Homo sapiens: one gene and its partners. The protein of the gene in region 1 purifies or fractionates together with the protein of each later gene. This does not show direct contact. Each region holds a gene or a part of one and is shown on either strand. Other genes may lie near its edges.

Region 1 (4,949 bases):
TCCTAAGTTGAAAAACCCTAACCCCTGTATCTCATAATGTGACTGTCTTTGGAGACAGGGCCTTTAAAAAGGTGATTAAGTTAAAATGAGGTCATTAAAGTGGGCCAATTAGGACACAGACACACACAGAGGAAAGACTATGTGAACACACTAGGAGAAGGCAGCCATCTACAAGCCAAGAGGGCAGGCCTCAGAAGAAACCAACCCCGCAGACACCCTGATCCCAGATTTCTAGCCTCCAGAATCGTTGAGAAAATATACTTCTGTTAAGTCGCCTGATCTGCGGCAACACAGTTATTTAAAAAGAAAACAAAATATATAATATTTCAAATGTAAGATAAGGAACACTATATACAAACATTTACTTTCCAATCTTATTACTTGGTCATATTTCATTTAAATTAAAAATAAAACATATTAGACATAGCCCCTTCTTTCCACCCCCAGTTTACACTCCCACTAGCACTGGATGGGACGGTTTATCACTACTTTGACAATACTTGCCCAATTCAGACTTTTAAGTTTGGCTATTCTAGTGTGATGAAGGTGAAATGGAATTTTGTTGTGATTTACTTCGCATTCCCTTTTACTGGTGAAGAAAGCTTCGATTTTGCTGCCTCTAAAGTATGGATGATAAAAGAATTGATCTTCCAGTGCTGCAAGGATTAAAAATTAAAATATGCTGAACTCATGTCCACTGACACAGGTACAGTGCAAGTCACAAGGGCATATCGCTATTGTTCCACAAAACAAAATTAACATTCTACCCAAAAATACTCTCCCTGCAGTTCCCTGCCATTGTTGAACAGCTGTACTGTTTCCATGTACAAAATTCTCATCCCAACTTAGTCTAAACTTCATTCTTAAAAGTATTTTTGTTTTCTGTTTTAACTACTTATGTATCTTCTTAGTTCTGATAGCGCTCAGTTTCACTGATTTTTTTCCATTGTTCTGAAAGATCAATATGGGTACCAATTTCCTCATAAGTTCATCTATTTATTAAAAATATACCTACATCACAAGCTGCTTTAGGCATCCATTAAGCATTTCTTAAGTTCATTTTCCTTTTATTTACTGCATCTGAACCAATTGTCAGAGCCAAGATATTTTTCCATTTCCTCTCCTTTGGCCAGTTTTGCATATAGTGGAGCATGAATGTCACCTTTGTCCACCAAGCCCTCCTCAAACATCTGGTTGCCCTTCATATAAGGTACATGCAGGTTATGAGTCAGCTCTCTGTCGCTCCTTCTTGTATCTTCCTAAATTTCCCACCAAATTCTCTTTAACTCCAACAATTCCCAGGCCTTTTCTTGTCTTCTACCACACTTCATATTACCGATTCTAAATTACCTATATGTCTCACTCCATTTGAAATTCATTTCATAACATTTTATCAGGTTATAGCATTTAAAAAAAATCTTAAGGGACCTGGTAAGTAAATTTATATGCATGTGTATACACGATTAGATCCTATAAAAAGTGTAATAGAAGGTAAGACACAATTAAGCTTTTAATCACACAGTACTACTACAAATAATGGTATCTCACTTATTTTTAAAGATTTTTTTCATTAATTCTCATTATAATAATTACCAAAAGAATTTGGAAGTAGATCAGTGAAGGAAGGAAAAGAAGGAAATGTTAGGCTTGATCTGGGCCTTCACTTACTTGAATGCAGAAAGCAAGTGTGATGTGAACAAAAGCAAGACTATCTCTATAAACCTCTAGCTCTATTTTAAAAAGTATTTATCATGATATTTATTTCAAAATTATCAAATAAGAAAGTTTTTAAAAAATAGAATATACAATAATAAAGACATTTAGAAAATCAAATTGTCTGTTTTGATTCCTTCATTAGCTCCCCAGTATCTACAAGCTTTCAAGTACTTACAGCATGACACATAAAGGCCTCTGAGGCCAAGTATACACCAGCTACATTTCCTGCCGCACTCATATTTCATATTTTGCCACCACATCTTTGTTATACTTCTTTGCCTGAAAAAGCCTTTCTACTTTCCTTAAATGGCTAACTCTTCTTACACATCCTTCAAAACTCAACACAGAATGGCCTCTCCCCCAGGAAGCTTTGCCTAAAAACCACAGGCTGATTTAAAGGCTTCTCCTTTATGCTTCAAATAAGAGGATCCTTGGCATACTTCTTTACCTCAAAATGTAACATGTTAGATTGCAATTCTGTTCAGTGTTTAAAGGGCAGCATCCTTTTACTTTTGTGCCTAAGCAACCAGCATGGTATCTGCCACCCGGTAGGAATTTTAAAAATGTTTGATGAACTGAATTGTAAGAATTATGAGATATAGAAAAAAGAATTTGTAGGTATATCTCATGTCTTCGAGGGGTTAGGAGAACTTGAGATCCATCTTGAATTTACAGTACTGGAGCTCTGAATGCAGCTAGTCTCTGCTTAATTCAGCATTTGGACAAATAAAGTAACTATTTTAAATTGCACTTACAAAATGTCAGTTCTAAACAGGTAGCCACAAAGTCTGGAAACACAGATAAAATTATTTTGTCATATACTATAATGTAATGCCAATAGACCTTTTGTTTTTACCACTGTTTCCAGACAAGGTGGCTACTTGTTTTTAATATAAGCTACTAATACAAATACCTACTGCAGTTAAGAACATCACTCTTTTAAGAGCCTCCAAAAATCAGGAGATTCAGGTAAGTGTCCTATCAAGATTTATCACTGATAAGTCTAGATCATCATGAAGTACATTGGAAAGGCAACAGGAAGCAAAGTAAGCCCGAAGATTCTAAGGGAAGCAACTCCTTTCTACATAGGCATTTAAGGCATTTACTGCTAGCAAGCTTTCCCTAGGAAACTGAAAAAGAGATTTAACGTCCATCAAAAGTAAAGGAAGAACTTTCTCCTGGTGTGGCAGAAGTATGTGTTTTTAATTAGTCATTGATTAGAAGTATTGGTATCAAGATGGAAATGATGATGATTTTCAATTTCAAGGAAGAGATTATATTCCTCATATGTATTCTGCCAACAGGTTTTGTTTTTTAAAATATTTTGAACAGAAAATATAATTCATAAACTTAATCCTCTAAAAATCACAATAGGAAGTCAGCTAAACTAACTCTAATCCAACCATTCTAGTATATACTATCCAAGGGCTGAAGTGTCAGGCAATGACTCCTAGGCCTGACTCTGTGCCAAGACCCTAAGGCCTAATGCTGTGTCTTCCCACCTCCAGAAAAAGAGTTAAACCTGTTAATTGTGAACCAGGATAAAAGGTTGAAAAACGGAAATAGAGTGGGGGATTCCGGGGTGGGCAACAAATGCATGGTGCTTGTCACTCACAAGACGGAAAATTGGGTTTCTGTTGTAAAATATTGTTTACTTAATAGCACCGCTTAAGTACTATTTATTCAGTAACTATTACAATGCAAAATGGAATCTGCCTTTAAGGATTAAAGAGGAAATTACCATCTCACTGTTAAAATTTTTCAATGCTTACAGTATCACTACACCCTCTTTTGGAGTAATTGCAAAGGGTCAGGGATGAACCAAAATACAATGCATATAAATATTAAAAGAAACTAATATATATGTTTTAAATGGCACTGAAGTTTGAGGTTAAATGTTCTGGAAAAAGGATAATAAAAAACTTAATAAAGTATGCCCTGAAAATTGCAACATTACAACATATTTAAATAAAAATACATGCTTGTAACTTTATAAGAACATTTCTTAACTGAAATATTCAAAGAAATAGCCTTTGATAACAGCCCAGCATAGAATACAAACTACAGTACTTAAACATAAAATCACTGAATTTTGTCATCAATATTATGAAAAACTAAAGCAACTGACATTTGAAGTTTTCCTAAGTGGAAAGGTAGTAGATAAATGACTGCTAATGTTTCTGACAAAACAAATACCCATACAGTGCAGAAGATTTCTTTATGAAAAGAAGAATCAATCAGTATCCTTTAAAAGTAGTAAGCCTAGGAATACTATTTTTTTTTTTTTTTTTTTTTTTTTTGAGACGGAGTCTCCCTCTGTTGCCCAGGCTGGAGTGCAGTGGCGTGATCTCGGCTCACTGCAACCTCGGCCTTCCGGGTCAAGCAACTCTTCTGCCTCAGCCTCCCGAGTAGCTGGGACTACAGGCGCGCGCCACAATGCCCGGCTAATTTTTGTATTTTTAGTAGACACGGGGTTTCACCATATTGGTCTCGAACGCCTGACCTTATGATCCGCCCGCCTCGGCCTCCCAAAGTGCTGGGATTACAGGCTTGAGCCACTGCGCCCGGCCAGAATACTATTCTTAACTGCCAATCTTACATACAGAAAATGTGAATTACAATATACTATGCATGCAATTTTAAGGCAATTTAACGATTAAGTGAAAGTGTTATTAACTGAATTCCTTGACTTCTTGTGTCTCTAAAATTAAAGCAAAAATATTTTCATAAGGAAATTCTCCCTTATAATTATCAAAGAGCTTTAAAACATGTTAAAATGTTCACTTAACAAAAGTAAAACAGAGCAAGCTTAAAAATAAAATTATCTGATTAGAAACGTCAGCCATAAAAATGCTTGTATCTTCTTCAAATTTGTTACTCATATGCTAACACAGCGATTAGTCAAACCTCCAACTTCCTAAAAACGCATTCTATCTTAACCAAATCGTAATTCACTAATCAATGATCCCAAGAGAAACCGCAACCATTCTATTCACACACAAAAAAGGATGGTCTTCAATTACAGAAATTCTACTTTTAAAAAGTCTTGCCATGTAAGCAAATATATTTCACCTCAATTTTGGATCCCTACTTTAGAAAAAAAAAAAGATCTAAAATGTACAATATGTATCTCAAAAATAAAACATCTATTAATACCTCCAATTATTAAGATACTAGAAAAAGTTTAATTGAGCATCTGCTCAGAGGAGGAGGATCCGAGGCAGATGAGTTTA
Region 2 (4,949 bases), on another chromosome or scaffold:
TTTACCACAGCTATAAGCCTTCCTCACCAAGACTTCTGCTTCTTCTTGCCCCAACTACATTTGTTTGCAGTGAGCCCTTACTAGCAACAAAAATGAAGCCATTTTCAGATATATTAATACAGTTTCCTAAACATGCTGGATACAAGAGTTACCTGAGGCTATTATTAAAAAGAGATTCCCAGAAACCATTTCAGATTTATTGACAGAATCATCAGGAGAAACCTAGGAGTGTGAATATTTATAAACACACTGGGTAATTTCTACGCTCTGGCAAAATTTAAGAAGTACTTGTAGCAAGAGCAACTCGTTGCAGTGCAAGAGAGTAATTAGAAATCCAGTGACTGAGCCACTAATCACTTCCTTACTCAGTCTACTTCAGCATATTAACATAATGCTGGTTAGCATTTCTGAGGGCCTACTATGTGCTGTCCTCCGTAGTAAACACACTGTATTTCACTTAGTGGTAACAATAACCTTTTGGAGTAGATACTATAAAGGTTGTGCCCCAGTTTTGTAGATAGGGAAAACTGAGGCTTTATATAATTTACCTGAGGACATGCAGTTTCTAAGTGGCCACTGGTTCAAAATCACCCACTACAGTGTTCAATTCCAGCATCAACTTAAAAAAAGCAAACACATGGCAAGAATTGAAATGGAAAATTCAGGTCTTTTGTTGATCAGTAGCTTCTCTAATTTCGACTTACTTTTTAATCCCTGCATGTGGTTCAAGTCTTTTGCCTAGGTTAAAACTAAAACTAAATATATATTTTGGATGCAAGATAATCATCTAATTGCTTGGAAAAAGGCAACCTACTCTATCTTTAGTGCGTACCTATGTGATCCTAAATGGGATGGGGCTGTGGACCTGGGTTGAGATGCTGCTGTTGATTAAAGTGAACCCCTGAATAGTCTGCTCAATAACTAGGCTTGCTATTTTGTTGTGAAAGGGAAAGACAGGACCCAGATTAACCATTAAAATTTTAACTTACACTCACACCATAAGAATGACCATCTGACTAATAGTCCAAGCCTCAAAACTATTAACTGGCTCCTAAGCATAAATTCTATTAATATTTTATTGAGACACTGTAAGCACATTCAGATATCTTCACAAGATGAGTTCCACTATGATAATCACATCAAGACTACAGTATTATTTTTATTTATTACCCACATACCAGTATTGTCAGATTTAAGAAAAAAAAATGCCTTTGAAAGAGCCAATAAGCTTCATAACAAAATGTCATGGGGATCTGCTGAGCAGTGGTGACTGCATCCTATGATATACAGAAACCTACACAAAATTTATAGTCCAATATGCACAAATGCTCTCTCTATATATTAATTATATCCTAGAGAAATTATCATATACATATACCAAAAAACACATAAAGAAATGTTAAGAGCAGTATCACTTAAAATAGCACCCTAAATGTCCAACAAGAGAATGGGTAAATTGTGATATATTCATATAGTGGAATACTAAATAGCAGTGGAAAATGAATGAACTAGAGCCACACATAACAACAACAAAACTCATAAAATGTTTAACTAAAAAAGCACATTTCAAATGATTACCTTCAATGTGATACCAATTAGTTTTAAAAACATGCTTATTTAGATATATAACAAATGTAGTACAAATATATAAAGAAATACACAGGAATACCACACATTAAATATCCAATTTAGGATAGCTTTGGCATGGGAAGGGCAAAGGGAAGGAAAACATCTGAAGCCACAGTTGTTTTCCTCCTCACATACTTTTACCACGTTTTATTTCTTAAAAAGAATGGTTGTAGTTTCTTAAGAGTGATTTTTAAATAGGCTAACAATTACTTGAATCTGAAAATGTGAATGCCATCCCAAAAGCTAAACTTTAATGATATTTTAAAACCGCAAACTTTGCATTATTCGGTCAAGTCATAAGAAATGGCTGATTTTTTGTAGGTCAAAAAGTCAAATATTAACAATTCCATACGGTTCAATCTAATATTAAGAATTCTGCATATGAAGAGCAAAACGTTGGTAATCATTCATTTTTTACCCCAAAACTTTACCATAAAATGGTCTATATTTAACGGCAAGACTCAGAAAACAGAGAAATAAAACTGAAGTGGAATGGATGACTTAATTGCCAAAGGATGAAAAACAAAGATAAACCATCTAATATACAAATTACAAGGCTGGGTGCAGTGGTTCACGCCTGTAATCCCAGCACTTTGGGAGGCCAAGGCAGGCGGATCATCTGAGGTCAGGAGTTCCAGAGCAGCCTGGCTAACATGGTAAAACCCCATTTCTACAAAAAATTAGCCAGGCGTGGTGGTGCGCGCCTGTAATCCCAGCTACTCAGGAGCCTGAGGCAGGAGAATCGCTTGAACCCAGGAGGCGGAGGTTGCAGTGAGCTGAGATCGCGCCATTGCACTCTGGCTTGGGCAACAAGAGCGAAACTCCATCTCAAATAAATAAATAAATAAATAAATAACTTAGAAACACATATTGTACAAAATGTGGCCAAACTACTTTCCACTGATATAAAGCATTATTACTTCTTTTTTCTTTTTTGGGGGGATACAGTCTAGTTTTGTCACCCAGGCTGGAGTGCAGTGGCACAATCTTAGCTCACTGCAACCTCTGCCTCCCAGGTTCAAGCAATTCCACAGCTGAGATTACAGGCGCCCACCACCACGCCCACCACCACACCCATCACGCCCAGCTAATTTTTGTATTGTTAATAGAGACGGGGTTTCACCATGCTGATCAGGCTGGTCTTGAACTCCTGACCTCAAGTGATCCTCCCACGTCGGCCTCCCAAAGTGCTGGGCTTACAGACGTGAGCCACTGTGCCCAGAAGCATTATTACTTCTTTTCAAAGTATTTGTATTAATACATATTAATAAATCCTTAAAAGACACTTGTTGGGCAAAACAAGGATTTATACATATAAAAACTGAAGTCCAGAGGAGAAACAACTGGTCCAAGGACAAACAGGCAGCAGTTACCAGTCAAAAAAAATCAAAACTAAATTCAGGTTCAGTTCCAAAATTAGCTACAGTAAATCAATCAGGTCAACAAACAAGTGATTTTTCTGTAATTCCAATCAAAGATTATGAAAGGAATAATTTAAGACAACAACAATCAATGGAGTTCTGTCTCAATATAAAAAGTTCTAAACTATAACTCATTTTTTTGTAAAACTCATTTTTCATAAAAATAACTTTAGGTAGTGATTAAACTATTAGATTAACTCATAAAACCAATGCATTTATAAATTAACTAGAAAACTATAATCTTTCAGCAACACTGAAGAAATTATACACTGCATAAGCAGTCTCTCAATCCCCTTCTCTTCTTAAATGTTCAGTGCTAGTATTTTCACAACAACAACAAAACAAGGTTTAAATTAGAATGCTGAAAGAAACTTTTGAAGAAAATATTGAAGAAGACTTGGAGGTATTGTGAAAGTTTTTCAAAGGTAACAGCAGTGGATTTTTTAGTGAATAAATACCACCTTAAAGAATAATCACAAAACTAAAAAAATGTAAGACAGGGACAGAGATTTTTTTTCCTGAGCTAACAGAGACAGAAACTAAAAGAAAGGAGTTAGAAAAGACAAATGAGAACTTACTGACGAGGAATTAACAGGGTCACTCCACAGCAAGAAGCACAAGAAACAGCGGCAGCGCTGTGTATGAACAGCCAGCCCCACAGGGAGAGATTCAACGATTCCCTATCCAAGCTGCAAGGTCACTACCCAGAATTAAAGTGAGAGAAAGAACTGGCCAAAGAATATGAGCATATCTGGGTCATTTTTGCAAATATTGGGCATTTTTAATCCAAGAAATATGCCTACTGAAACCTACCAATACCTACAATTAATGTCTTAAATGCTCTTATTTCTACTTCCTTCTGAGTAGGAAAGATGAATGACAAGCTATCCAAATTGTTTCAGGTATAAATGGCAGCCTGGATAGTCACAACCAATCATTCAATGCCAGATGTCTCTGGTATGACCTGTTCTCCTCATCAGGGTCCACTACAAGGAAAACAGCTCCAGGACACATGCATATTACACCGTTAGAGAAGGGGGATGGGGAAGACCAACCTGCCTCTGCATTCAGCTCCTCTAGAAGCCCGCTGGTCCTCCAGGTAGCTCCTGTGTCCTGGCCGCCTACAGAATTACTGTGCTCTTGAACTACTGCAGCCGCCAATAAATTGTCCACATTTACCACTTCTGGGTCAGAGTTGGTGTCAGACATATCATAATGAGCTACAACTGGAGGTCCATCTAGGGAGGAAAGAAAATGTATACTTGTATCTAACGTGTGGGGTGAAAAATACTTCTGAAACTAGTAAGAGCCCTCTAATGTCAGTTGCCTTCATTATTCTATCTCATCAGAAAAGCTGCACTTTATAGATCTAATATTTTGTACAAAATGTGAAAGTGAAAAAGATAATCCAAGCTTACAAAGATGATGGACACATTTTGGAAGGAGGAAAAGGAGTGTTACTATGAAGAACAGAAGACAAGACTATACTCAACAATGTTACACTGAATTCCTGTCATACTTTTAAAGAGCAAGATTAAGAAAAAAAGGATGACTCCACAGAGAAAGTGGAACTGATTTCTTAAAGGAAAAAACTGATGCAAATTATTAAAACCCAATTTATATTTTTTAAAAGAATGAATCTAGTTCTTTCTCTTACTGGGTAATATAAAAAGTCTCTAGTAGATTCAGAAAAGAAAATCAAATATATTTTCCTATGTCCTAAAGAAATAAGGTTAACACTAGAGCTCTGTTTGACTAACATATCTATTTCCAGTAAAGTCCTTTTATAAAAACAGGGATGTTATACACTTTATGACATTCTGTAAAAAGACAATACAACAAATCCATTTTCAGGATTTTGCTTTGGATATCTTATGAGGGATATTTCTATTTCCTTTT
Region 3 (4,949 bases), on another chromosome or scaffold:
TCTACTGCTGGCTCTGAAGAAGTAAAGCTGCCAAGAATGCTTCAGCCCTAAGAAAAGGAATTCTGTCCCCAGTCTAGAAGAGCCTGGATGTGGATCCTCTGAGTCAAGTCTCCTGATGAGAACCCAGCCCTAGCCAACACCCTGAATGCAGCCTTTATGAGACCCTAGGTTGAGTTCGCTGTGCCTGGACTCCTGCCCCACAGAAGCTAGGAAATAAATGGCTGCTGTTCGAAGCCACCAGGCCTGTAGTGATTTGTTGCCCAGCACAGAGAGGTAATACGGGGGATGCTGAAGAGCTGTCTGCTCAACAACCTAACAGATTCGCACCTGAACCAAGTCACTCACAGCACCTTCACAATACATCACAAGAGAATCAGGACTTGGAGGGACTGCACAGGGTCAGACATACAAGACACTTCAGTGGCCTGTGCCCTGCTGGCTGTGGTACTCTAGAAACAGTCCTCTCAATTCAGAATTCTCTCTCCCCTCTGGGTACTGCTCTTTTTTGGGGGCCATCTTCATTACTAATCACTCTTTCAATATTTTTTTTATTTTTTTAATTTAATTTTTTTTTTTTGAGACAGAGTCTCACTCCATTGCCCAGGCTGGAGTGCAGTGGCGCCATCTTGGCTCACTGCAACCTCCGCCTCCCAGGTTCACACTATTCTCCTGCCTCAGCCTCCTGAATAGCTGGGACCACAGGCACGTGCCACCACACCCGGCTAATTTTTTGCATTTTTAGTAGAGACGGAGTTTCACTGTATTAGCCAGGACGGTCTCAATCTCCTGACCTCATGACCCACCTGCCTCAGCCTCCCAAAGTGCTGGGATTATAGATATGAGCCACCACGCCCGGCCTCCTTTTATTTTTTTGAGATGGAGTCTTGCTCTGTCACCCAGGCTGAAGTGCTGTGGCTCGACCTTGGCTCACTGCAACCTCTGCCTCCCGGGTTCAAGTGCTTCTTCTACCTCAGCCTCCCGAGTAGCTGGGATTACAGGCACCCTCCACCACACCTGGCTAATTTTTGTAGAGAAGGGGTTTCACCATGTTGGCCAGGCTGGTCTTGAACTCCTGACTTCAGGTGATCCACCTGCCTTGGCCTCCCAAAGTGCTGGGATGACAGGCATCAGCCATCGTGACCGGCCTACATTTTTTTAAAAAGGTAATAACAATCATGAATGGAGTTGTTTTGGGTTTTATTTTCATAATTGTCCTCAGAAAGATAAGGTAAATGTGTGTACTGGCAGTTTTCCCATTTCTGAGCATGCTTTGTTGAGGAATAATAAAAGAGAATGACTCTGCCATAAAGACTATCTGCAGAAAAACACAGTTCTTATTAATTCAAGTTTCCTTTTGCTTAAAGAGCCAGAACTCAGTAATCTCCACAACTTCAGAATAAACCACCCAGGACTCATCAACATCATTTTATCCTGAAACCATATGGATTTTTCTTTATTCTTCCCCTTTAAATGCTGTTAAACCAAAACCAGAAGTAATACTCAGACCTCAGAACTACTATCTGGCTTGTAGTTAAAAACATGGATTTGGGTCAGGCGTGGTAGTTTACACCCATAATCCTAGCACTTTGGGAGGCTGAGGTGGGAGGACTGCTTCAGCCCAGGAGTTCAACACCAGCCTAGGCAACATGATGACATCCTGTCTCTCCAAAAAAAAAAAGAAAGAGAAAATATATATGGATTTGTTCCTTCTTTGAGAAACTGAAATTATATCTTGATTTTTTTTGGGGGGGGGACAATTTAGCATTTTTTTTCTAACTGTAGAAGTTCAAATGAAATATTATCTCTCTTTTTGAAATTTTTTTATTTTTTGTGGAGAGGAATCTCGCTATGTTGCCCAGGCTGGTCTTAAGCTCCTGGTCTCCCACCTCAGCCTCCTGAAGTGCTGGGATCACAGGAGTGAGCCACTGTGCTCGGCTGCAACATATATTATAGTGTGGAAATTGGCAACTATTCTCTACTCAGTTATTAGCAAACAACATATATGCCAACCCCGATGCTAAATTAAAACATGGACTATGATTAGTGATTGCTGTCTAGTTTATTTCTTATAAACTATATGGCCTTCTAATATTAAAACAATCTGTACACATTAAGGACACTGAGTAAACATTCATCATGCTTTTTGTAATGAATGTTTTACTTATTAATCATTCATCCTTATCTTCCTTCCCTACCAAATCAGAGTTTCTACCTGATTTTGACTTCCCCCTCTCCGCCTTCTAGGATGTGCTTTCAGCACAGTCTTTGGTGGCTGCTGTGCATTCTGACCCCCCTCTCTCCTCCCTCACACTGACTGTAAGTAGAAGAGCAGCAAAATGTCGCCGTATTTACCAGGAGGCAGGGGCTGTGTGACTGGGCCAACCTCAGCCCTCCTTACCTTGCACAGCCATGCTGGATGACCTGGCTCCTGACGCACACCTGGGCCATGGCTGCCCCACTCTCAAGCTTTCTCCATCTATGAGTCCCTGCAGCTTCACTACCCTGGCTGGCCACCCAACTCTAACTGCTTCTTCAGCCTTCTTCATGAGCTTTTGCTCCTCTTCCTACCTCCTTGACCAATCGGCACCCACCTCTGCCTGCAAGCTCTCATCATGCCTATGACTGCACAGATCACAGGGGCAGGGCTCATTTGGGAATCGTTTGTCCATCTCTCTTATTAGGTCATAAACTCCTGAGGGCAAGAACTGTGTCCTGTTCATGACTCAACAGTAGACAGTCAATTAATGCAATCAACCTCACTGATTATATGAACTCAAAAAGTTACGCTAGACTCTGCCTTCTCTGTTCGTCCCTGTGTCACTGATTGAGTCTACTCCACTGACTGACTATCGCGCCCAGGCAGAAAACCCTCAGTTCCTCCTTTCTAGCGGACAATATTCATCCCAAGTGCAAAGAATTTCAGTAAGAACATTTAACATAGCCTGAATCAGACCTATGAATACTTTTTATTCCAAACCTTCAGGAAAGTTAAACTTCCTGCCTCCTGAAGCCACCCTGCTTCCTGAAGCCACCCATCTCATCTGTGATCTGGTCCAAGGGCCACGCCTGTCTTAGGCTGGAACGTGCCCACTTGTCCAGTACTGGCTGGCAGCATACAAGGATACTGGCCCCTCTGAGGCCTTCTTTCCCCACACTGACATGTCCTCACATCTACACCACTTGAGGTCATGTGGCGTTAGGACGGACCATCGTGACCCCCATCTAAGAGGTCTGATGTGCAGCATGGAAGGGATCTGTTCCAGAGCCCTGTGTCTGATGATGTGGCTGCGGGACTGAGACCCCAAGGGCAGTGTTCTAATACAGCTCTAAGAACTGAGTATTTAATGATCCTGGTAAAGTCAAGATGAACCTGAAAGGTGCACCGTACGTTGCATGTTCCCATCTCCCCACTCCCATTGTCTGCAGCTGTGCTGTGGCCTCTTCATCCTGTCATCCTGTTTTTTTCCAGGCTTTCAAACGCAGGCTAAGATCCTACCTATTCTTTGAGGTCATTTCCAAGGGCTACCTTCCACATAAAATTTTCTCTCCAGTCCTTGCAAAAGAATGAAATTCTTCACGGCAACCCTGTAACACAGAACACATCCTGTGTGTCTGCCCTCCTATCACAGTGTGGGCTCACTTTCCCTGTGTGCTGCAGGCCCCATAAGCCCGCCTTCTGGACCATGCCGGGCTCTGTGTCCCTGCAATAAGCAGCTGAGGGGCTCCCACGCTGTGGACAGGGAGTGGATACCCATGGAACACAGTCATCAGGCCCCAGACAGCCAGGATTTGCTGTTAAGACAAAAGCCTAAATACCTGACTGACCGATTTCAAAAGTGCCACCTCTCTCGCTTGCTTGTGGGATGGTGGGGACTGAGCTGACACAGCTGGTCATCCAGCTGCCTACGCATTCTCTGTGCTCTTGTCCCCACTGAGTCCAAACACAAGGTTATCTTTAAAAAATAAAACAATACCAGGAATCCTTCACCTCTACATTTTATTGTAATTTACCTCAGAAGTTAAACAACCCTAGTGCTTCTTCATGACTTTGAAGGTGAAGGTATTCAGATACTGCATAAAAGACAGCAATCGCACTTGCTGTAAGAACACCAACACTGATGCTTTTAGAACAAAAGGTTTATCATCAAGTGGTGGCACCATTCTTACCAGATTATCGAGCATCCGCATGAGGGCTTCAAATTCCTGCTCACCAATCTGCCACTTGGGAGGCGATCCAGTGCCTTCCCCTACCGGAGACCCTGGGGAACGGGACTTGGCTTTGTACTTCTCAGGATTCAGCAGGACTAAGTTGTCTGGTCCTCCTGCACTGGCCAGAGTTCGAACCTTTTCCAAAACACACACAGCATGGCTTGAGTTCCTTACTGAGATCAAGAGGGTCAGATGACTTGAATAAAAATGTAGGTTTCAAAAGAAACCAAATCTCTAGAGTGTAAGAATAAAAAATGTAGAATGGATAGTGACAGACTGATCACAAAGTTACTTTCAGAAGTATTTCTTTAGCATGACAAAAATATTGGGCACCAAAGTTGGCAGAGAAATGAGAAAACACAGCACCTTTCAGGATCCTACAAAGGACTTGGGACTTCACTACGCCACAGACATAAGTCAAGAAGCAGAGGGGAGAACGTGAACTAACGGCTGACGGAGCGGAGGGGAACTCACAGCTGTAAGCTGCAGGCAAGTCTCTGAGTCTCTACTTCTGTATACCTGCTTTTTCAAAGAGTACTGTGGGGGTCACGTGACATCACATATGCGATGACACACACTAAGCACCTGATGCCAGGCCTATACACACCAGTACTCCATAAATGGTAGTGACTGACATATTTGAAAATTTAAAAATTAGAAATGAAAAGCCCAGTAATCCTTTGCCAACTTCAATCAGTGAAACAGCATTTGTCCTGATCAAGTCCCAAATCCATGAGCTT
Region 4 (4,949 bases), on another chromosome or scaffold:
GCCCCAATTTGTTCAATTCCTATATTTTCCGTAGAGTCCTCTTTCTCATTCATCCTCCCAAATAGTCAGTCAACCTCCCATCGATTCTAACTCTTAAAATTGGTCTCAAATACTCTCAAATACTTAGTTCTCTCTGCTATCATATCGTAATTCACTTCCCACTTAAGCATGGATTGGAGGTCAAAGATAAACAAAATACCAAAATACAGCTATAAAGATCACACTATCTTGAAAAAATGTAAATCAACTTGAGTTTCTTCACTGTTAAAAATTCTTCACTGATCCCATTGACTATAAGATGATAAAATCCAAACTATTTACCATAGCAGATAGACCTCTGAGAAATGCTTTTTGCTGTAATTCTGATCCCACTTTATTGCCGGTAAAAACAAAGTATGTATTTTCATTTCACAATTCATGCCTTTGCACAAGCTGCTCCCTCTCTACCTATGAATGCCATTTCCCTCTCTTCTCTTGACTTCCTCAATTCCTGAACAAGTCTTACTACTTGCTTTAAAGCACAGTTCCCTTAGCAAGTCTTCCCTCACTAATACTTTCCACTCAGCACATTTCATTTTCATCATTTGCTTGCCTGGCTATCCCAGACTATGCAGCTGTTGAGAACAGAGTCTCCATTATTAGTCCAGGTGCCACCAGTGAAGAGTAAATTGTAGTTAATCATCAATGTTTGTTAAATCTGACACACACACACAGCCCCCCACACTGAAGTTTCTCTTATTTATAAATCAACCCCAAGGAAATATAAAGCTTTTTGTAGTAGGAAAGCTTTGGAAGTAGTCTTGAAAACGCTTATACTTGTTACCAAAATACCTTAAATATTTAGCAATCTTTGCACAGAAGGAATTTGCACCTAACTTTTAAGTGACAACAGAAAATAGTTTATAAATAAGTTTCAAATCAGAGAAAATATATTTTTTAACATTTATTCAAGAGTAAAAACATACTCTGAAAACGTGTACCTGGGCTGTTTGTGGACTGCTAGGTAGCCTGTTCATGCCTAGTAGATACTCAAATACTTTTTACAATGAAAAGAAATGAAAAATGAGAGTTTGATCTCATATCCATTACCAGTTACATGTCCTATAAAAAAGCAGATCAATAAAAGGAGAACTAAAAAAAAGGGGGGGAGCTTGCACAATGAATCCAAAAAGCAGGTAATCTAATTGTAAATAATCCAGAATTGAGTATGTTATATCAGCTGCCACATACTCTCCCTCCCGGTAATTGAGTCAGACAATTACTTTCAAGTAAGGTTGAATGGTCTTAAGTCACAATGGCCTAATACAAATAATACTTATTTCCATATAAGAATGACAATTTTCTTGCAAGAAAAACAGATACCATAAACTTTTCAAAGCCCTCTGGAAACTTTTTTTTTTTTTTTTTTTTGAGATAGAGTCTTGCTCTGTCGCAGTGGCACGATCTTGGATGTCTGTAATCTCCGCCTCCCAGGTTCAAGCAATTCTCCTGCCTCAGCCTCCTGAGTAGCTGGGACTCGGCGCACATCACCACACTCGGCTAATTTTTCTATTTTTGCTAGAGACGGGGTTTCACCATACTGGTCTGGCTGGTCTCAAACTCCTGACCTCAGGTGATCCACCAGCCTCAGCCTACCAAAGTGCTGGGAGTAAAGGCATGAGCCGCCATGCTCAGCCACAATTTTTTAATGTAAGTAATTTTTACTTCTTTAGAAAAATTATATGACTAGCACACCATGTCTAATAAAAGGATAATTCCATAAACTTTTACCAGGTCCCACTCATTTACAAGCAAAAAAACCCCAAAAAAACAAAATAAAAAATAAAAACCAAATAAAAGATTGATAGCTCACCACAATTCACATGATTAAAATGATCCCAGCCCTTGGGAGGCCAAGGTGGGTGGATCACTTGAGGTCAGGGGTTGAAGACCAGCCTGGCCAACATGGTGAAACCCCGTCTCTACTAAAAATACAAAAAAAATTCGCCAGGCATGGTGGTGCACACAGGTAATCCCAGCTACTCCGGAGGCTGAGGCAGGAGAATCACCTGAACCCAGGAAGTGGAGGTTGCAATGAGCTGAGATCACACCCTTGCACTCCAGCCTGGGAAACAGAGTGAGTCTCTATCTCGAAAAAAAAAAAAAGATAGCAGCCCTATAAATTAAAAATCAATTACTCTTTCTCAGGCCATATTTACAGACTGTTTTTTTCTGGCTCATAGTTCAGCATTCGGTTTTGCGGACCCATGCCTAAAAGGAAAAAGTGTTAATACATTCTCATTTCTTGCAAGTAGCATCACTTCATCATTTCAGTATAAAAGAAAAATGATCACTTACCTTTTGATGCTGTCAAAATAGTACTTAACAATTATTGACAGATTAGATTTACTACCACAGGACCATTGTTTTTCCTATTTTTCTAATGACAAAACCAGGTGTTTCTAGACTATAAATTGGGTTTTAAAATTCATAAGTGATCAGAATTCCTAGAAAGCTCCAGATTTTTTATGTCAAGCCACAGACATGTCGAAGTGGTATAAACTTTTGATGTTCAAGAATCAGGATAGATTAATGAATTGTGACACTCTATAAAGTACCAAAAGCTAAAGGTCTATAATTAAACATATAATTATATATCCAATTCTGAGTTACAAACGTGCTGTTATTCAAAAGCACATTCTTTTCCACTGAAAATCCATTTCCTTTCCTCCTTGTAGCTGAAAATTGAGTCATTATAATACAATCAAAAGACTTTGTGTAAATCAAACAAGCAATTTTGCTTTGTGCTAAACATCATAAAGTATAAGGAAATATAACCATAGCTAAACAGTAATATCACTATCATTATTACAATTTATAATTATTTTAAAATAGAATTAATTAAAATATAAAACATTCAACCACAAACACTGGAGATAAATATTTTTATATTTAGAGAATATAAAAGTCACCTTTCACTCATGAGCTCATCTGAGACTTTTTGCTCTTCACATTCCATTTTGTCCTTATTGGTCTGGTTCGTTTCCTCACTTTCTAAAACTACTCCTTCATCTTGGATTTTTGGTCCTTGTCTGATTATTTTCAACTTTCTTTTTTTGACTTTGTTCTTGGTAAATTCTTGATACTGGTAGGCTCTATCACTGTCCATGTCCTGATCTCTACAACCCTCAGGTGGCTGGGTCATTGTCCGTTTGTTAGAGATGTCCTGTGGGAGATCTACTGCCATGCGTTTTACCTTTCTCCTCCTGCGCAGAGTTCTATTCCCAACATTGTCCACAGCAAAATCAGACTCATGCCATAGAGGTCTTTTCCCTCGAACATTATTATTTAAGTTTGATGACGGCCTGCGCTTTGCTACTAACATTTGGTCATCAGAGTCACTGTGATCTTTTTTATTATTATTGTGATTCTCTCTATAGTCCTTGCTTGGTTCTTCTAAACTAGAATCAGAGCCTTCACTTAAGCAGTGACCAGTCTCCCACGGGTGATGCACATTATACGACCTCCGTTTTCTCCCTCTCCTTTTCCTTGCCTGGCGTTTCAGAGGGCAAGATATACTTCGAGAATGGTCTCCTGTTTCAGCAAATCCACCTCGAGCTTGCTCTGAGCTCTCTTCCAATGCTGAGACAAGGTCATGAACCAGCTCCTCCATGGTTCTACTGAAATGCCTTCATTTTTTAGAGAAAGAAAAAAGAAAATAGTCAGTCTTAACCACAGTAACCTCATTTTCTATAACAGACAATTCATTCTAAATTCGACAAAAATTAATGATTACAAAATGTTTCAAAGCTAATTTTCCTATCCAAGATATTACAGTTTTAAATATTGATTCATTTTAGGCCTCTTCTTATATAAGTTCTTTTATTAAACATAGGAATTACTTCCAAGATAGAATAAGCTTATGAGCAATGAAAGATCCCAGTATTTTTATATTTTTCTGTATAATTATGGAAAAGTTCTGTTTAAATCCCTATCCGCTGGCCCACTCCTACCCCTTTTCTAGAGCCAGTTTTCCTACAGCAGATACAGAAAGAACTTTCTCAGTCCCCTCTTCGCCCACTAATCTCTAAGTAAAAAAAGAAACATGAAATCTTCTATTCACCACGTGCCCTAACCAGTCACTGTCATATAAGAGGCAGTTAGAAAGACAGACAGGTAGTTTCAGGATTAGTAATATACGTGAAAGTTTAACCAACACCATGCATTTATTTAGGCCACACTAATCTCTTAACCCAGTGAAGCACAAACTACATTCGCATTCAAATTGGAGCCTCACTGGTTTCAAAGGGCCCATCATTACTTCATTCTGAAGCAATCTCTTAGGCTTTCCTTTTTTAAGAGCATTAAACTATATTACCAGTATGAAAATTATCCAGTAGTCAGCAAGAATAAGCATAAGCATTCTTTGGGAATTTTTATAAATTATACCTGTCCTTTTAAAACCCAATTCCCAAAGATTTTAAATTAGTTGGGGTGACATACAGCCAAGGTATCTGGTTTTATTTTTTAAACATCACAGGCAATTCAGATTTGCACCCGTCTTATGAAGACCACAGGCAATCATTTCTAAAATCGAGATCTAGAGGCACCTAGGGATTGAAATATTCTCAACAGTCATACAGAGCTTCTAGAGCCTACAGCAGGAGTAGGCTTTTATGTAACTGGCCTGCTAGTAAATATTCTAGGCTTTGCAGGCCATTGGGTCTCCCAAAACTACTCAACTTGCCACTATAATGCAAAAATAGCCACAAGCAATACATAAATAAATGGGTATGGCTGTGTTCTAATAAAGTTTTATTTATAGAATCAGGTTATAGCTGGTTATAGTTTGCTGACCCATAGTCTATATAGTCTCTACAATCATGTATAGTCTCCAACAGTCAATAATTTCAGGCTTTTGCAAGTTCCTTATAACAGCTTTCAACTTTTGTCGTTTCATTTTAATAACC

The links.
Region 2: the proteins of STK17B (region 1) and ARK2N purify together in Homo sapiens (affinity purification with mass spectrometry, with the first as the bait; one large-scale study listed by BioGRID). This does not show direct contact.
Region 3: the proteins of STK17B (region 1) and ADD1 purify together in Homo sapiens (affinity purification with mass spectrometry; one large-scale study listed by BioGRID and IntAct). This does not show direct contact.
Region 4: the proteins of STK17B (region 1) and GPATCH2 purify together in Homo sapiens (affinity purification with mass spectrometry, with the first as the bait; one large-scale study listed by BioGRID). This does not show direct contact.

Annotation. Positions count from the first base shown.
Region 1 is NC_000002.12:196,165,079-196,170,027, forward strand, and holds part of STK17B (serine/threonine-protein kinase 17B), read right to left. Parts: intron 657-4,949; exon of another isoform or gene 505-656; intron 1-504. UniProt on the Homo sapiens protein: Phosphorylates myosin light chains. Acts as a positive regulator of apoptosis.
Region 2 is NC_000018.10:46,239,344-46,244,292, reverse strand, and holds part of ARK2N (protein ARK2N), read right to left. Parts: intron 4,289-4,949; coding exon 4,106-4,288; intron 1-4,105. UniProt on the Homo sapiens protein: AMPK substrate important for exercise capacity and skeletal muscle function.
Region 3 is NC_000004.12:2,898,654-2,903,602, reverse strand, and holds part of ADD1 (alpha-adducin), read right to left. Parts: intron 4,345-4,949; coding exon 4,168-4,344; intron 1-4,167. UniProt on the Homo sapiens protein: Membrane-cytoskeleton-associated protein that promotes the assembly of the spectrin-actin network. Binds to calmodulin.
Region 4 is NC_000001.11:217,616,832-217,621,780, forward strand, and holds part of GPATCH2 (G patch domain-containing protein 2), read right to left. Parts: intron 3,669-4,949; coding exon 2,952-3,668; intron 1-2,951. UniProt on the Homo sapiens protein: Enhances the ATPase activity of DHX15 in vitro.